4 linked regions of the Homo sapiens genome follow. The protein of the gene in region 1 interacts with the protein of each later gene in a pairwise test. Each region holds a gene or a part of one and is shown on either strand. Other genes may lie near its edges.

Region 1 (3,500 bases):
AACAGAGAAAGACCCTGTCTCTAAGAAAAATTTAAAAAATTGAAATGTAAGAACAGTCATGAAGCCAGATTGCCCAGGTTTTGCCCCTTACTACTGTGTGATTTTTGGCTGATTAACCTGATTATTATTTTCCCCATCTAAAAGCGAAGATGATGACAATAGTGTCTGCCCCATAAACTATCATGAAGATTACATAAGTTCACATACTTATGTGCTTATAAATAGTACCTGGTACTAAAAGTATAAAATAAATGTTATCTATTATTATCTTTTTTTTTTTTTTGGAGGCAAGGTCTCAGTCTATCTTCCAGGCTGGAGTGCAGTGGCATGATCACAGCTCACTGCAGCCCCAACCTCCTGGGCTCAAGCGATCCTCCTACCTCTCAGCCTCCTGAGTAGCTGGGACCACAGGTATGCACCACCATGCCTGGCTAATTTATTAAATCTTTTGTAGAGACGGGGGTCTCCCTGTGTTGCCCAGGCTGGTCTTGAACTCCTGGGCTCAAGCAATCCTCCCACCTCGGCCTCTCAAAGTGTTGAGATTATAGGCATGAGCCACATGCCCAGCCCAATTATCATTATTATTACAAGATCTTTATTACAAGGCTGAGATACAGACGCTAGCTGGCTGAACTTCTGGCTCCTGTTTACCAACTTTCTAGCCCACTCAATTCAGACCCTTGCTAGCTCTTTTCATCATCCTATGAGGCGTGAATTATTTGCCCTGTTGCAAATTCTTACAGTGCTGTCTGAAAAAGAGATATGCTAGTGTAATCTAGAAACTGGAAGAGCACTGTAGAGACAAATAATTCGGGATTTTAATGACTCTCTTGCAGGGAGAAAGGCAATTGAACAGGATGACTCACAAGGTTTATACTGAAAAAGCTTAGAGCTTTTTCTAAGCGCTTAGATTATTTTTTAGTGACCAGCTCTATAAAAGCAGTGATCAGAGCCCATGCTAGCTAGACCTAAAAAGTAATAGTTGTAACACAGATGTATTTAAACTGTGATAAAAAAATTAGACTATACACATGAAATTGGTTTGAATTACCTCGGCTTTAGAGAGCTGCCTGTCATTGTCCATGTCTATTTGTTTAAATGTCTCAATGCTCCGTGGTCCTTTGGTCACAGCATAAAGTTCAATCTCAAAAATCAATGTAGCATCCGGTGGAATCTTGCCTTCTGCTAAGGGTATAAATTTTAACAGTTTAACTTATGTAAAGATATAGTTCAAATATCTATTCATGAACTGCCATAACCATATTATATTATTTCATGTTGATAAGAATTGCTATCTGAATACTCACAATTTTTAATTTTTTCTCATCTTTTATAACTTTTTTCGGCTTTTCAATAGTTTTCTTTTTTGTTTTTTTTTCTCTTTTTTTTATAAATACTTTTTTAGGAATATTTTTTCCATATGTTTCCAAACCAAGTCAATTCAAAGGACCTATGGGACCACTATTTCTTGATTAATTTAAGTAAAAATCATAAACTTTTTATTAATGCATGGATATGACCCTCTATATCTGTGGGTTCTGCATCTGTGGATTCAACCAGTCTCGGCTTGAAAATATTCATACAAAAAAAGGATAGTTGTGTCTGTAATAAACATGTACAGACTTTTGTCTTGTCATTATTCCCTAACCAATACAATATAACAATCTTTTACATAACATTTACATTGTATTAGATATTATAAGTAATCTAGAGATAATTTAAAGTACACCGGAAGATGTCCAGAGGTTATGTGCAAATGTGATGCCATTTTGTATCAGGGGCTTGAGCTTCTGTGGATTTTGGAATCCATGAGAAGGTCTTGGAACCAATCTCTAACAGGTACTGAGAGACAACTGTACTCTCCTATCATCAACACAGAAGAGAGGTGGCACAGAGAAGAAATGCATGGGCAGAAAAATTGCAAAGCATAGATGAGTCATCTTTTAGAAAGTGATTTTGTGTAGTTATTTGGAAGCATAAATAAAACATAAGTATTAATATATTTGTCTTTCAAATTTTTTATAGACATTAAAAAATAAGTGCAATGATAGAAAAATCCAGTAACAGGCTGGGCACAGTGGCTCACACGTGTAATTCTAGCACTCTGGGAGACCGAGACAGGAGGATCACTTGAGCCCAGGAGTTTGAGACCAAACTGGGCAACATAGTGAGACCCTGTCTCTATTAAAAAAAAAAAGAATTAAAATAAAAATTCAGTAACAATTTTACAAAGAAATTGTATACATTTTTAAGCAATAAGTTGAATACCTATTTTTATTTTTATTTATTTTTTTTGAGACGGCGTCTCACTCTGTTTCCCAGGCTGGAGTGCAGTGGTGCAATCTCCGCTTACTGCAGCCTCTGCCTCTTGGGTTCAAGCCATTCTCCTACCTCAGCCTCCTGAGTACCTGGGATTACAGGTGCACACCAGGCATTGCATTATTAGTAGAGATGGGGTTTCACTATGTTGGCCAGGCTAGTCTTGAACTCCTGACCTCAGGTGATCCGCTTGCCTTGGCCTCCCTAAGTGCTAGGATTACAGATGTGAGCCACTGTGCCTGGCCAGAATTGCTCTCTTTAATTAAGTTAACCTATTAGCTGATGTCACAGATTTTTTTTTTTTTTTTAGACAAGAATCTTCCTCTGTCACCCAGGCTGGAGTGCAATGGCACGATCTCGGCTCACTGTAACCTCTGCCTCCCAGGTTCAAGCAATTCTCCTGCCTCAGCCTCCCGAGCAGCTGGGATTACAGGTGCCTGCCACCAATCCTGGCTAATTTTTTATACTTTATTAATAGAGATGGGGTTTCACCATGTTGGCCAGGCTGGTCTCAAACTCCTGACCTCAAAGGATCCACCCACCTTGGCCTCCCAAAGTGCTGGGATTACAGGCGTGAGTCACCGTGCCAGGCCATGATGTCACAGGTGATTTTAATAAGTGATGGGCTATTTCAGATAAATATGTCATAAAAGTGACTTGCAAAAATGACTTGCTAAGGGGCAGCGGGTAGCTTGTGTCATCAGTATATTGCCAGTGTCCTACACAGTGCCTAATCTACTACAGGCAGTCCAATATTTGCCGAATGAATGACCCATATCATTTATTTTTAAAATGTTTGTCCTTGGAAGGAAACAGCAATTTCTTTAATAAAAAAGTGAAGCATTCTAGCTAAAGTCTTTATATAGTCTGAAGAGAAAAGAGTTTGTGAGTTATAGCCAAAAGGAGTAGCAGATTAGTAGTTTTCAAAGAGAAAACATAGAAAGATCTACCCATGCATCATATGACTAACATAAAAGTCCTAACCTAATGCACCACATATTACCTGACTTTAGAGTAGAAGAGCTAGAGATTGAGTCAATGATTGTTTTATAAAACCCATTCCTATTTTTTCCAGTTATCTCCTTATGACAGAATTATTGTCTCCTGACAATAATTCAAGGCAAACTCAAAACACAAATTCAAATTTCTTTTCTTTTCGTTTTTTTTTTTTTTTGAGACAG
Region 2 (2,307 bases), on another chromosome or scaffold:
ATGACAGCTTTCCCTGAGTTTCCTGTTGTATCAACCCCAGAAGACAGTCACCCCCTGTACCTTCTGTCCTCCACATGAGAACAGGGCATGGAGCCTCTGGCAATTTACATTATCTTTTTTCTGGGCAATTCTTCATTGCTTAATTGTATAGTGCTTAATATAAGTGAAAGCACACTGAATGTATTGGTGTTGCAAAGGCAATGTTTTAAAATCCTTCGGTGTGCTTTACCTCTGCATTATTATTTTGTCTGTAAAAAAAGGCTGTGGCAATAAGAATTCGTTTACCAACTGGCCGGTGAGGTGGCTCACGCCTGTAATCCCAGCACTTTGGGAGGCCAAGGCGGGCGGATCACCTGAGGGCAGGAGTTGGAGACCAGCCTGGCCAACGTGAAATCTGGTCTCTACTAAAATACAAAAATGAGCCGGGAGTGGTGGCACATACCTGTAATTCCAGCTACTTGGGAGGCCGAGGTAGGAGAATAGCTTGAACCCAGAAGGTGGAGGTTGCAGTGGGCAGAGATTGCGCCATTGCACTCCAGCCTGGGCAACAAGAGCGAAACTCCGTATTTTAAAAAAAAATCATTTACTAACTATATGCCAGTGTTTTGCTTAAAGTAACTCAATTATTAACAAGTATTTACCCTTTTTACAGATAGGGCCATTGAAACTCAGATTAACATGTCTAATATCGGTGAGAGAGCAGTCACTCACAGATTCGAAACCAAAAACCAGGCTACTTCTCTTTAGCTGGGCGGCTTGGCAATATGATTAGGAATTCTTTTATGTCTTGGAATTTGGGCTTGTTTCAACTTCAGCATGGTAAATGCTCTAATATACAGGGAAGGAGTAAATCTTTTTTTTTTCTTTTTTGAGACGGGCTTCGCCCTTGCCCAGGCTAGAGTGCAGTGACGTGATCTCGGCTCACTGCAGGCTCCACCCCACGGGGTTCATGCCATTCTTCTGCCTCAGCCTCCTGCATAGCTGGGACTACAGGCGCCCGCCACCTCGCCCTGCTAATTTTTTGTATTTTTATTAGAGACAGGGTTTCACCGTGTTAGCCAGGATGGTCTCGATCTCCTGAGCTCGTGATCCGCCCGCCTCGGCCTCCAAAAGTGCTGGGATTACAGGCGTGAGCCACCGCGCCCGGCCAGGAGTAAATCTTTAAACACATACAGACATCAAAAATCGAGATACTTTCCTCTAGGTACATGTTTGACACTTTCGTTTAGAGATCCTTATTCTCTAAATGCCAGCAAATCTCCCTACTACAAGAGAATTTCTTATGTCTTGTTATTACTAGAAGTAGATGAGCGGGGACTGAATACGTTTTCCCGCCTTTCCTGGTCTTTCAGTTTTCAAAAAGGTCTACTCTACCGTTATATAAAAGGCTGCGGAAAGCGAGTAATCGTTTTGTTTAGAGATAGTTCTGACTTGTTTATCATGTCTGTTCGGGGCAAGGCCGGAAAAGGCCTTGGGAAAGGCGGTGCCAAGTGCCATCGCAAGGTACTGAGCGATAATATTCAGGGCATTACCAAGTGCACTATCCGGCGCTTGGCCCGGCATGGCGGTGTCAAGCGCATCTTGGGCCTCATTTATGAGGAGACCCGCCGGGTGTTCAAGGTGTTCCTGGAAAATGTGATCTGGTACGCCGTGACCAACACGGAGCACGCCAAGCGCAAGACGGTCACCGCCATGGCCGTGGTCTACGTGCTCAAACGCCAGGGAAGAACCCTGTAAGGCTTTGGCGGTTAAGTGAGGCCAGGCCTTTCCTTGCAATATCGTTAATGGCCCTTTTCAGGGCCGCGTACGTTTTCTTCCGAAGGGCTCACGTTTGACATTGTGGAAACTTAACTAACGCACTCAGCAATATTGTGTGTTTTATTGCTGTAGGTGCCCAAAAGCTGTTAGGTGTATAATGCTGTAAAGTATAAATTTACGCCAAGGCTGACATACAACATGGAATACAGGTGGTAAGTTAATCGTGTGTTCAGAGATTAGAAATCTGGTGGGCTGGCTGAGGACATCAACGGCTACATTGTCACTTAAAAGCTCTCAAAATGTGGTTATGGTAGTGTGTTTTTCTCCTTACTGTTAGGATTACCCTCCGTAATTAAAATTGTAGTTTTAGTGCCAAGATAACCCGACTTTTATATTCTGCTTAATAAGCAATTTCAATAACCAGAGAATACACAATAATTAGCACAAACTTGCCAGGTGCCGTTCTGACAAATGTGTCTGCAGTGGAGGGACTGGCCCCCTTGCTAGTTCAATGATCTAATTTAGCAGCACTAAAAGAAGTTTACCTGT
Region 3 (3,500 bases), on another chromosome or scaffold:
AGTCACAATGGCAATTAAATTTTAACATGGGTTTTGGAGGGGCATTCAAACCATAACATTTCCCTTCCAAAGAGATGCCACAGATGAACTCCAGCTGCAGGGCTCATTCTGGCCTGGGCACTGCCTTGACTCACCCATGACCTGGCTTAGTCCTGCCTCTCTGGGCCCCAGCCTCTGGGTCTGCATGGTGACCAGTGGGGCTGCATAGTCCCCGGCTCCTGCTGTTGACACCACATTGGAGGCAGGTGGGGCTGCACACACGGGTTGGGGGATGTCCGTGGATGTGGGTGTGGTTATAGTCAAGGCAGGAGGAGATATGTTAATGTGGGCATGGCTAATGGTGAGGTGGGTGGGGTAGTGACTGTGGGTGTGGCCACATCTAGCAGGTAGGGATATACCCGAGTCAAGTTGGGTGTGGCTCTGTCCAGGTGGGCGTGGTGTCCAGGTGGGCGTGGTATCCAGGTGGGCGTGGTATCCAGGCGGGTGTGGGTGGGCGTGGCGTCCAGGTGGGCGTGGTATCCAGGCGGGCATGGTATCGTGATGACCACTGAGGATGTGGAGCCCCTGCCAGACTGAATGGAATCGGGCCTCACCACCCACTCTCAACATGGCTGCAAAGCTGTGGAGGACCCCATCTGACCCACAGGGTGTGGCCTGTCCCCTGGGCCATGTGACCACCCCTCCCAGTCTGGTTCAGGACCAGTGGGGGAAGAACAGGGAATCAAGGCAAATCTGGGCACATCCCAGACGCCGAGGAGCAGGAAAGCAAAAGCAATAGGAAGCTCCCTTCTGAGACAGACAGCCACTCCCTGGGAGGGTTCAGCCCTCCTGCCTCCTGCATGGGCCCTGGGCATCCTCATCCTCTCTGTCTTGCATCAGGACACTGGCTCCCTGGGGTCTCTGAGCCCTTGCTGCCTCCTACCATCCATCCTCCCTGGACGCCCAGAGAATCCCTGCTGAAACGCATGCCTGTCCTGGCCTCCCCATGCCCACGTCACACATGAAGGCCTCTGTGCAGTCTAGGCCCTTCTCAGTGGGGTCCTGCCCACCTGGCTCCTCCTCTTCCCCTCTGGGTCTCCCAGGCCCTTTGCTCACACAGCTGTTCTGTGTTTCCTAGGCACCCTGGGCTTGCCTCCGATCAGGATCCTTCAGCACCCCACCCCACCTGCCCCAGTGCAGCCTGTCTCTCCCACCCTGCCCAAGGCCCATCCAGGGTTTTCTGGGCAGTTCCTAGTCTGGCTATGGGAGGAGGCCTGAGTTGGGAGCCGTAAGCCCTGGGCTCGCTGCCTGCCCGGCCTGCCTCCTTGGGTGACCCTGGCAGAGGCTGCCTCTGCAGCCCCAGCTTCTCAGCTCTTCCAGGGCTGGAGCTTAGCAGACTTCTGGGTCATGCCGTCTCAAGCTCACCATCTTCCCTTGTCTCCCAGAACCATTCCAGGCCTGGACGGGCTTCTACACGTCCCGCAGCTCACTGAAGGGGCTGGCCCGGCGAGCCAGCGCCTTGTTGTATGCCGGGGAGTCCATGTTCACACGCTACCTGTGGCCGGCCCCCCGTGGGCATCTGGACCCCACCTGGGCCCTGCAGCAGCTCCAGCAGCTTCGCTGGGCCGTCTCCGAGGTAACACCACATTTAGCCACAGTGGCAGGATTGGAACCTCCCATGCTGCGCACCTCCCCTCCCTTGTCCTAGCCAATCCTTCCAGCCCTGGGGCACTAGAGGCCCCACTTTACAGAGGGGAAACTGAGGTTCCCTTTGGTTACAAGGCCAGTGCATGGTGAACCCAGGCCAAGGCTGAGACCACAGCCTGATCCATCCAGCTGGTGGCCTCATTAAGCTTTGTAGCAGTTTAGCAAAAGGGATAAAGGACAAGGTGGAGTGGCATTTGTGTCCGACAGCCCTGCCTGCATCCATATCTCGGCTCAGCTGTGTGATGTCAGGCACATGATTCCCACACCCACCCAAGACCTAATTCCCTCCTGTACAATGAGAACAACGAGCTTGCCCAGGAGGACGGTGGGGCAATTGGATGTGCTGGTGTGCACAGCCTGCTTGGTGCAGTGGCTGCTGAATAGCCAGTTCATGAGTTTCCGTCTCCACCCATCCCCTACTGTACTGATGGGAAAACAGACCCAAGACAGCCTGTAACTTGTCCTCAGTCACCTATCCAAAAAAGGGTCACACCAGCCATGACACTGTAACAGTTCCCCAAAAGGAGCTGCTGGCAGAACATGTCATTATGTTGTGGGAGAAATGAGGTGACTTCAGGGTCCTTCAGAGCAGGGGGTCCAGAGATGGGGGACAATGAGTTCCCACAAGGGCAGGAAAAGTTGGGCGAGCTCCTCAGCTTCTCTTGGCCTCAGTTCCTCCTTCTGTAAAATGGCGGGGACTGCCCCCTTCTCCACTGGCACCTGGCAAGCCAGAATGAGAGCCAGCGCCTAGTAGGTGCCTTGTAGGTGCTTTGCAGAGTCAGGTCCTGATCCTGTTCTTCCTCCCCTCTGGGGGTTGCTGCAGGTCCAGCACCATGATGCCATCACTGGGACTGAGTCCCCCAAGGTGAGAGACATGTACGCAACGCACCTGGCCTCGGGGATGCTGGGCATGCGCAAGCTGATGGCCTCCATCGTCCTAGATGAGCTCCAGCCCCAGGCACCCATGGCGGCCAGCTCCGGTGAGCAGGGCCCTGCAGGGAGGCTGTGGCCCCTTTATGAAGGGAGAGCCTGAGGAGGTCAGGGGAGGGGCTCAACGACCCCAGCTTCAGACTCTGAGTCCACATCACCCATATCGCCCTTCCCCATGGTGAGAGCTCGGACAGGTGGCTTCAGTCCTCCCAGCCTCTGTTTGCTCATCCGTGCAATGAGGAAGGGTTGCTGATGTTACAAGAAGAGCCAGAAATAGCAGCTAACATGTTTTGAGCATTTACTAAGCTCAAAATACCCTTCATGCAGTATTGAATTTAATGCCTCACAAAATCTGTACAAAATAGGAATGGTTACTGTCCTCATTTTACAGCCGAGGAAACGGACTCAAGTTATATGCTAGCCCAGGGCCACTCGGGTAGGAAGGAGCAGAGCAGGGATTGAACCTGAACACGGTGCTGCCCAGCCTTGGCAGAGAGTACGCCGGTGTCCTCAGGGGCCCGGTCCCTTCCTGGCTCCTGGCACTCCCTCCCGAACTCCACTTGGCTGACATCACAGCAGGGCAGCCGTGGGACCAGCCTCTTTGACTGTGAGTTTTCCCACGTGTAGAGTGACTGATCACATGCCAGTGTGCCTGGGACTGAGGGGTTTCCAAACTGGGAAGATCCTGGACAAATGAAGACAGGTTGGCGGCCCTCCGCCCGCATGAGACTTTTGTGTGCATAGGCCGCCAGGTCCCACCCACAGCCTGCACCTGGTCATCTTGCACTTCCTTCTTGTTTTTTGTTTTTTGAGACAGGGTCTCGCTGTGTCACCTAGGCTGGAGTGCAGTGGTGCCAGTCATAGGTCACTGCTGCCTTAGACTC
Region 4 (2,931 bases), on another chromosome or scaffold:
CCTCTGTTTATTGTTGTATTCTTTCTCTCCCTCTTCAAGACTCAATGATGAGGCACGGCGGCTCATTGCTGATTTGGGGAGCACATCTATTACTAATCTTGGTTTTAGAGACAACTGGGTCTTCTGTGGTGGGAAGGGCATTAAGACAAAAAGCCCTTTTGAACAGGTTAGTGTCATAGACTCTCAGAATTAACAAAAACAAATTCTGTGAAACCTTACGGTACATTTTCCCATCCCAGCTATTTGAAAATTAGATAAAGCGGATAGTAAATATGATCATATATTTGTCATAAATTCTTGGTAATCAGTTATTTGAAATAACTATCGTACTTTTAAATTTCAAAACTTGAAAATTCTGCATGGGAATATTTTTTCCTACAGGACAATGCATTGGAATAGGATTACCTATCTTAAGCCTTTTCGGAAGCTTTAGTTATTAAGGATTTTAATTGAGCTTTGGATTTTAGAATCAGTGAAGTTTGGAAATATTTTAGAACTTAGTAGAATGTAAATGTTAGTTTTTGAGTAGCAAATAATCCTTTAAAAGCACGTGCAATGTATTCTTTCAGCTGTTATTTGAAGGTCTGCCATGTATGTGATACAGCCTGAGGGTCACTCATTTAATATCTTGACCAGTAATTTAAATGAACTTATTGTTGACATGAGTATTACTGAAATGAGAAGTGTGTAAAATGTTACGGCAAATCAGCAGTTTACAACGGTTTTTTAAACTGTATATTATTACTGTGTTCCAATAGCACATAAAGAACAATAAGGATACAAACAAATATGAAGGATGGCCTGAAGTTGTAGAAATGGAAGGATGCATCCCCCAGAAGCAAGACTAATGGAAATGTGGAGAGAATTGAAGAAAGCGCACTTTCACTCTTAATGGGAGAGCTATAAATGGCAGAGCTATGTGTAAATATTTTAAGAGCATGCAGCCATCTTGGTGTGTGCATGAGTATTGTCTCTTTTGATATCAGGATTATTTATTGCTAACGTAAATAGATAGCATTGTAAATAATCATCACAATGATCAAATCACTGAACCATGTCTCCGCACATTTCCCTAAAAGTACAATGTTTAGACTGCTATGGTAATACATATTTTAAATTCTAAAAGCATACACAATGTGTAACTGAATGGTTTGTGAAAAATATATTGATATATATACTAGTTGCTATGAAAATATCATGGAATAATAGGGATTTTAGGGTGGATACTTTATTTTCTTTTATGTTTCTATATGTTGCGTTGTGATGACATTATCTTTTAAATTAAAAAGAGATTTGGCTAGTTGTGTGTGTAATGTTACTTTACAGTCCGACTCTCCTGATGTACCTCTTTTCATGATCTTTTTCTTTCCTTCCCAAGAAACTGAGGAATGTTTAATATGAAAACATACATCGGATATGTGAAAAGCACAACAAAATTCTTAATGTACACAGTAAAAAAGTAAATATATAAATGTAGATGGCATTTAGGACCACAGCTTGCTGGATTTGTGTTAGCTATGGGAATAACTTGATTTTGTATAAGCTATTTAGAGTGAGGCTGGAGGTGGCAGCTTCACAGAACTGGAGAACCAGGCCAAGTCCCCTCCCCAACCTAATTAGGTCATTCAGGACAGCTAAGTCAGTATATTTAGAGCAATACTAGCATACGTTTTTCTTAATTGTTATCAGCATTGACCAAGTGGTTTGGAAGGAGGCATGCTTTAATATCACAATAATTTTGATTTGTAAACCAAGAAATTAATCCTGTGTTTATCTAACTTCATAATAGCAATTATTGCCCGAAGCTATAGTGGCATATTTACAAAAGTTCTTATTACTGGGCGGACTGATAACATTTAAAAAATAATTGTGTTTGACCCCAAATGACTTTATACCCAATTCTACATAAAAATATAGAAGATCTATCTTTTTTTGTTACCTTCAGATGTTCACTAAATAACTCAGTTTTTAAGCAGAAGTTTTCAGGGCATTAAATATATGTTGTGTATGAAGTATCTCAAACTGGAACATAAATTTAGTGATCAAACTGCCATTCACAGTGTAAGGCAGCACTTAAATTTCGAACCTAAAGTTTAGATGCATTGTATAAAAAAACCTAAAAGCAGTATCTGTTATTTAGCTGTAAACCAAGTTGGAAGCTATTCGGATAATTTCTTAAATATTGATGAACTTTGGAGTACTGTTTCTTCCTTCAAACTGAATGTAATTAATTCATGAATAAATGCACCTTATATGTTTAAACAATCTTTGTATACTTTTGGGATTTTTGGTGCTTATATGCTAAATCACATTCAGCATGTGTATTTTGACATTTAAAATACTTCCCTCAATTCTGTAAATTAAAAGAATAGTTATTTTACAGTTCCAGGGATTGTGAAATAAATGTTGCAGTTTTTTAAAATAATGAAAATAAATACTCTTGGTTTTGCTTTGTGAATTTTTTTTTTTTTTTGTATTATCTGGCAAAGTAATATACCTACAGAACTTCACAAAAACTCACACAAGGTTTTTCAAGCATTTATTATACTGCCTAACTTGGAAAAAAAATTGTTGCTGTGGTTAAAAATAGTAATATCCTAGATGTGTCTTAACATGTAAGAAGCTAAGTATCTAGATGGCGGAAAAAGCCCTTTTATTAAGACTGTAAAAGGATAGCTTTTCCAGATATATAAAATGTTAAAAGAAGACAAAGATTGGTTATGTTAACTGGTGTGGTTTCCTTTTGTCTCAGTTCAATCTTGTATAGATTGTGCCAACTTAACTTTGAAAGCAATAACTTTATACTACATTTTCAGATACCTCTTTAAAATCGGTTTTAGACATGAAACAGTGCTCATTTAATATTAAGAATGTTCTTTATTAAAATCAAATTAACATTGACATAGTATTTGAAATGGTGCTTATGGGCTT

What was found. Proteins that work in one complex are often made in the same cells at the same time.
Region 2: the proteins of FKBP7 (region 1) and H4C7 interact in binary tests that used the Homo sapiens proteins (3 or more experiments, as listed by UniProt).
Region 3: the proteins of FKBP7 (region 1) and MAN2B2 interact in binary tests that used the Homo sapiens proteins (3 or more experiments, as listed by UniProt).
Region 4: the proteins of FKBP7 (region 1) and FAM3C interact in binary tests that used the Homo sapiens proteins (3 or more experiments, as listed by UniProt).

The regions. Positions count from the first base shown.
Region 1 is NC_000002.12:178,468,601-178,472,100, forward strand, and holds part of FKBP7 (peptidyl-prolyl cis-trans isomerase FKBP7 isoform a precursor), read right to left. Parts: intron 2,925-3,500; exon of another isoform or gene 2,837-2,924; intron 1,186-2,836; coding exon 1,052-1,185; intron 1-1,051. UniProt on the Homo sapiens protein: PPIases accelerate the folding of proteins during protein synthesis.
Region 2 is NC_000006.12:26,246,111-26,248,417, reverse strand, and holds H4C7 (histone H4-like protein type G), read left to right. Parts: upstream 1-1,421; 5' UTR 1,422-1,440; coding exon 1,441-1,737; 3' UTR 1,738-1,807; downstream 1,808-2,307. UniProt on the Homo sapiens protein: Core component of nucleosome. Nucleosomes wrap and compact DNA into chromatin, limiting DNA accessibility to the cellular machineries which require DNA as a template.
Region 3 is NC_000004.12:6,595,689-6,599,188, forward strand, and holds part of MAN2B2 (epididymis-specific alpha-mannosidase isoform 1 precursor), read left to right. Parts: intron 1-1,424; coding exon 1,425-1,615; intron 1,616-2,509; coding exon 2,510-2,666; intron 2,667-3,500.
Region 4 is NC_000007.14:121,348,378-121,351,308, reverse strand, and holds the end of FAM3C (protein FAM3C precursor), read left to right. Parts: intron 1-39; coding exon 40-166; intron 167-758; coding exon 759-848; 3' UTR 849-2,431; downstream 2,432-2,931. UniProt on the Homo sapiens protein: May be involved in retinal laminar formation. Promotes epithelial to mesenchymal transition.